2 linked regions of the Homo sapiens genome follow. The protein of the gene in region 2 purifies or fractionates together with the protein of the main gene of each other region. This does not show direct contact. Each region holds a gene or a part of one and is shown on either strand. Other genes may lie near its edges.

Evidence for each region. The genes of interacting proteins can lie anywhere in the genome.
Region 1: the proteins of CFAP251 (region 2) and ZNF397 purify together in Homo sapiens (co-immunoprecipitation; one large-scale study listed by IntAct). This does not show direct contact.

What each region holds. Positions count from the first base shown.
Region 1 is NC_000018.10:35,244,034-35,247,170, forward strand, and holds part of ZNF397 (zinc finger protein 397), read left to right. Parts: intron 1-1,228; coding exon 1,229-2,277; 3' UTR 2,278-3,137. UniProt on the Homo sapiens protein: Isoform 3 acts as a DNA-dependent transcriptional repressor.
Region 2 is NC_000012.12:121,967,092-121,970,591, reverse strand, and holds part of CFAP251 (cilia- and flagella-associated protein 251), read right to left. Parts: intron 2,587-3,500; coding exon 2,423-2,586; intron 1-2,422.

The DNA of each region.
Region 1 (3,137 bases), on a different chromosome or scaffold from region 2:
AGCTGCAAATGGAGAATCATGTAAGGAAGGCAAGAGTATAGTCCTATTAAAGACTGCTGTAATCCAAGTGGCCACAGTGTATTCAATCAATATGTGTTATGGTAAGCGGTGGAGAACATAAAAGCTGACTCCTGTTCAACAGCATTTAAGTTGTTTTGCAACATCTGGTAATTATTAAAACTAGAGTGTGAGGGAGAGGAGTTGAGGATGATACTGAGGTTTCAGTCTTCAACAGTCTGGTTAATGGTAGTACTGTTCATGTGAATGAGAAAACATAAGGAAAAACAGATACATCTGATGATGTGTTTAGGTTGGTACATTTGGTGCTTGTGAAATATTCAAAAGTAAAATGCCCAATTAGCATAAGACTCTAGAGCTTAATAAAATATGGATATAATTGGGGATCTGGGCAGACATTAGTCAGACAATAGCTTACAATGTAAGATGTAATGGAAGCCAAGGGTAGAGAGTTTGTAGAGTAAGGATACATGAGAGCCCAAAACAGAATCTGGAGGAACGCTCGTGTTTGAGTGATTTACCCTAGAATCTAAGAAGGAACAGCCACAGAAATCAGGCTAATATCACTGGAAGAGAATGTCTCTAGAAGGAAGGTGTGATCCTCAGTGTCAATGCTACAGAGAGGCTAAGTAATAATCTAGAAAGTACTTAGTGGATTAAAGAGCTATGAAGTGATCTTGATGAGAGTAGTATCAGTGGAAGTAGGGGACGGGGCGGTGGGGGGCGGGGGAGGACAGTAAGGCAGAAACCAGATTGTGGAATGAGGATACTTTCACTTGAAAGGCTGCAGACAACTCTTTCAAGAAATCACTATGAGAGAGTGAGGTTGCGAAACCACTTGAGAGAGAGTGAGGTTGCTTGAGGGAGATATGTAGGCAAGAAGGTTGATTTTAAAAGGTGAGAGACACTTAAGCTTATTTAAAAGCTGATGAACAGGAATCAGTTGAGAAAGAGATTGTAAATAGTAGAAAAAAATTGTAGGTAATTTATCAGTTGATGTCTCAAAAGAGGCAGGAAAGGATGGAATTCGAAGTGTAGATGTAGACTTTATTATTAGATAAGAGAGACCCTCTTTTGGCCAGTTGAAAAAAAAGATACTGGAGGACAGTGACATCTTTGTAGGTAGAAGCTTCTGTTTTCTCTCATGTAGAAAGTTTTGACGGTGACAAGAGAAATGTAATATCTGTTTTTTTGCTACTTATTGTTTCAGATTGTGAGAACAGTGAAACAGCAACAAAAGAGGGCATCTCAGAAGAAAAATCACAGGGACTCCCTCAGGAACCTTCATTTCGAGGAATTAGTGAGCATGAAAGCAATTTAGTGTGGAAGCAAGGAAGTGCTACAGGGGAGAAACTAAGATCTCCTTCCCAAGGGGGCAGTTTTAGTCAAGTGATCTTCACAAACAAATCTCTAGGAAAGAGAGACCTTTATGATGAGGCTGAAAGATGCTTGATTCTAACTACAGACTCTATAATGTGTCAGAAAGTTCCTCCAGAAGAGAGACCTTATAGATGTGATGTATGTGGGCACAGCTTCAAGCAGCATTCCTCTCTAACACAACATCAGAGAATCCATACTGGAGAAAAGCCCTATAAATGTAACCAGTGTGGGAAGGCCTTTAGTTTGAGGTCCTATCTTATTATTCATCAGAGAATTCATAGTGGTGAGAAAGCATATGAATGTAGTGAATGTGGGAAAGCTTTCAATCAGAGCTCAGCCCTCATTAGACATCGGAAAATCCATACTGGTGAGAAAGCTTGTAAATGTAATGAGTGTGGCAAAGCATTCAGTCAAAGTTCATATCTCATTATACATCAAAGAATTCACACTGGTGAGAAACCTTATGAGTGTAATGAATGTGGGAAAACCTTTAGCCAGAGCTCAAAACTCATTAGACATCAGCGAATTCACACAGGAGAGAGACCCTATGAATGTAATGAATGTGGAAAAGCTTTCAGGCAGAGCTCAGAGCTGATTACTCATCAGAGAATACATAGTGGAGAGAAACCCTATGAATGTAGTGAATGTGGAAAAGCTTTCAGTTTGAGCTCAAACCTTATCAGACATCAGAGAATTCATAGTGGGGAGGAACCTTATCAGTGTAATGAATGTGGCAAAACTTTCAAAAGGAGCTCAGCCCTTGTTCAGCATCAGAGAATTCATTCTGGGGATGAAGCTTATATATGTAATGAATGTGGGAAGGCTTTCAGGCACAGATCGGTCCTTATGCGCCATCAAAGAGTCCACACTATAAAGTAATTTGTGAATACTGTGAATAGTGTAAATACTTCAGTCAGATTTTTAAGTTTGTTAGTCAAAAGAGTTTACTTTGGAGCAAAACTCCATAAAGGTTATAAAATACTAGGTCTTGAGTCTAGCTTGCTTTGTGCAGCATTTCCCAGTGCTAATGTAAAGTGTCCCTTGAAAGCTTTTCCTGTGACTAATCAGAACAGAATACAGAAGAATCATTACTTCCAGCTCTTCTCTTATTAGGAATACTCAGGAAATACGAAAAGTGGGAATGTAACATTGAAACCTCATTTTGTATGAAAGTGTCATGAATATAGCAACCCAGGCTCTGTCACTGCATCTGATTGTTAGTGTGCCAGGTTATGGGGCTGGTGTGGACTGTGTGAGGCACTTCGTCTCAGGAACTAAAAAAAAAAAAAAAACTGACCCAATAAAGAACAGTGACAGAGCAGCAGGAAAGGTGGGGAAATGGCTTCATCAATGATTTGTTGAGCCCAGGGCAGGCCAGGAATTAGATAGGCATGAGAAGAAAGAATATAATTTACCCAAAGGTTATTTTTTGAGTACCTACTTTGTCCCAGGAACTAGGAATACAGTGGAAAACAAGACTGTAGTCTCTACAGTCTAATGGGCAAGGCAGCCAGACAGGCAGTGAAAGTGGAATGCTCCTATGTGACCTTAAGGAGCACCTGACTCAGCCTTGGATAAGGAAATGGGGGAAATGGCCTGAAGGATGAGGAGGAGTTAGCCAAGGTGGTACTCTAGGGAAGTGGTACCCCAGTAAAGAACAGTAGCCAAAGGCCAGAAACAAAGTGTGGAGCATTCCTTGAGTTCCTGTTGTAGTGAGGTCTTGTCTGTCAGAGAAGTCT
Region 2 (3,500 bases):
TCCATACAGTACTTCTGGAAAGGAGCTAAAGCTCAGCCCTGTGGCAAGCACACAGTAGGTGCTCTGTAAACGCTCCCTGGATGAGGAGGAGGAGGAATGGTCTGAACTTGGTGGTAGCAGTCCCATTTAAGAGTTGGAGGAACTGAGGCTCCGAGAAGTGAAGGGACTTGCCTGGCGTCATCCAGCAAGCAGGTAGTGATTAGCTAGGATTCGAATCGGGGTCTCTCTGCTCTTGGCTGAGCAGGGCAGCAGGATGACAGGAGGCAGGGAGGATGAGCACAAAAAAGTAATGCAGGATTTGGAAACAGATGCCAGACAAGGAGAAGAGAAAGGGTGCATGCTAGCACGGAGCAGGAGAAGAAGGGGCGTGCGGAATGAACCCTGAGAGAGGGGATGGAAGGGGCTCTCCCGGGGCAGAAGCGCCATAGACTGTGATGGTAGCAGTTGGGGCCAAGGGGTGCACTGACTGAAATGATCGAATGTGAGGGGATTTATCATCTTTATCTCCCCTACAACTCATCATCAGTAACTCTAGTAGGAAATTCTGTTTGTTTACTTGTTTAGGTTTTTTACATTTCTCTCCATTAGTGAAGTGCTGATCATATTAAGTCACCAGAAGCAGCAATGAAGTGATAATTAGTTTATAATGATCCTTTGTCCCCACCACAGATTAAATTGAAATTCTCAGAAGCCTGGACTCTGGCCAGGCGAAAGCTATTGGAAAGCAGAGGCCTTTTTTTCTTCTTCTTAAATTTCTACCATTCCAGATCCCACGACGACTGAGAAGAAGACAAACATTTCAGAAGGAAGGTTCTAGCTGGGTGCAGTGGCTCACATCTGTAATCCCAACACTTTAGGTGCCCAAGGCTTGAGCCCATGAGTTCAAGACCAGCCTAGGCTTGGTGTGACTCTGTATCGACAAAAAAAATTTTTTTAAAGTTAGCCAGGCACATTGGCATATGCCTGTGGTCCCAGCTACTCAGGAGGCTGAGGCAGGAGAATTGTTTGAGCCCAGGAGTTCGAGGCTGCAGTGAGCCATGATCACACCTCTGTACTACAGCCTGAGCGACTGAGCCAGACCCTGTCTCAACAACAACAACAAATAGAAGGGAAGGTTCTGCTTGTCCCCACAGGGTGTGGCTTGCCCCCATGGTTCCAGGCAACAAGCCAGGGAGCAAGGAACCAGGCAGCCATTCTGAGGCCATGATCCCTTTTCAATAGGAGAGTTCACCTCCAGCTCCTAAATCCTCAAGTTCCCAAGATCTGCTCTCTCAGGTGAAGGTGGGGTGGAAGTCAGAGCTGCAAGTGCAATCTCAAACCACCGTGGTTCCAAAGCAGATTTAACCGGCTATTTTTGCTCATATTCAGGTTAAGAGTAGAAGCTTCAATATCTGCCATAAAAAGAAAGATGTGCATTTGGCAGATGGCAGGGGGTACACTGTGCTGGCAGCCAGGAATCAGGTTTGTTTTCCGAGGAAGGAAGGTGCCTCTGAGCTGTTTTTGCTCCTCAACGTCACACTACCGAGAGAGGCCCAGCCGAGCCACAGGCAGCGCAGGGGCTTGGAGAAGTGGTCAGGAACAGGAACCGGCTGCCACATGGTTGACTCTGCCCTGCGGCAGCATGCCGGATTTGGGTAGATGAGAGGACAGTGTGGGTGCTTGTCCCCTCTTTATTAGGGAAGATTCTGAGCTCATAAGCAAATGCCCTTACAGGAAGAAGAGACGAAAGGAAATCATTCACTTGCCGAGTACTTTGCTCTGTACTAGGTGCTTTTCCCCTATTAAACTACCTGATCTTTACAGGGATCCTACAGAAGTTCCTATTATCACCCCCATTTCACATGCTATCACCCTCATTTTGCATGCAAGGAATCTAAAGATCAGGGACGTTAAGAAGCTTGCCCTAGGCCCCATAGCCAGTAGAGGGTGGGCCCATATTCAAACTCATATTATCCCTTTCACCTCAAAGTCCACATACTCTCCAATGTTCAACTCTAGAATTCTCCAGCCTCGCCTCAGGCAGAGGTTCTCCATTCAGGGCAGGGAGGGTGAGAAGAGGAGCCGAAAATACCACTTGAAATGATCCTCTTACTATTTCCGTAGTATATGCTTTGGAGGGTCGGCCTAGATCTTTCTAGCAGGTGTGGATATGTGGAGCAGAGGGAGAAGCATTTTAGGGAGCAGGGGTGAGCCCAAGGTGCTGTCACATCGCCTGAACTGCAAACACCATTGGTCCATGGGACAGGACAGCAACTCCTGTCTGCAGAGTAATGTGAGCAATGCCACCGGGGAGCAACCTGAAGGCCAGGCCCTGTGACATCCTAGCACAGTGCCTGGCACGCAGTAGGGTTCAGTGTCTATCACTGTTGCTGAGTGAAAAGGAGTTTACACTTGATACCTTCCTTCTCGCCCCATCGTGTACCTTAAGGTGATTTTCCACTGCACCACCGAGCGATCGTGCCCTCCCGCAGTGAAGGCGTAGCAGCCATCATAGGAAACGGCCATGCCGGCCACCCCGTTCGGGTGGCAAACAATAGCAGATGTCTTATGTGGATTGCCGTCAACTGGTAAGATCTGAAGTCCCACCTAGAAAGGAACACATAATTGGATATTCAGACTCAGGTAGCTGGGCCCGAGAGAGGCCTGGCACGTTCACATGTCACCTCCAGATCTGTGTGCCAGAAGGACCTGTGTGTCTGGACCCATCTCTGAGTGTGAGAGCCACATTTAATGTAGCTGGGCATCCACACACACCAGCCCTGGTAGGGGGCCCCTTGCACAGCTCTAACAGGTACACAGAAGGGAAGCTTTCCTCCCTGCCTTCATGGTCAGTTGTCCAGGGTTTTCCAGAATACATCTCACAACCTATGACTTTACACTTTTCTTTTTTTTGACGGAGTCTCACTCTGTCGTCCAGGCTGGACTGCAGTGGCGCGATCTCGGCTTACTGCAAACTCCGCCTCCCGGGTTCATGCCATTCTCCTGCCTCAGCCTCCTGAGTAGCTGGGACTACAGGCGCCCACCACCACGCCCGGCTCATTTTTTGTATTTTTAGTAGAGACGGGGTTTCACCGTGTTAGCCAGGATGGTCTCCATCTCCTGACCTCGTGATCCACCCGCCTTGGCCTCCCAAAGTGCTGGGATTACAGGCGTGAGCCACCTCACCTGGCCCGACTTTACACTTTTCAACGCAGATTATTCATTAAATGTACAACAAAGTGTAACTAATTTGCATATTTTTACAAGAGTTTTTCCATGTAAATAAATAAGAAGGAAAAATCCTTTGGTGGCCCATGTATCTTCACTGGGAATATAGAAAATGCAGTAACTCTGCTCAGAAATGTCTCCCAAGAGTCTTCCTAACTCATCAAGGGCAATTTTCAGTATCACAGCTGACTGGGGTGGAAGCAGTTGGGCTTGGCTGTAAACCCAGAACTCTCTGAGTCTCGTGATCTTCAGTAATGACTGCTGCTCATGACACACAGAGTCAACTCCCAGAA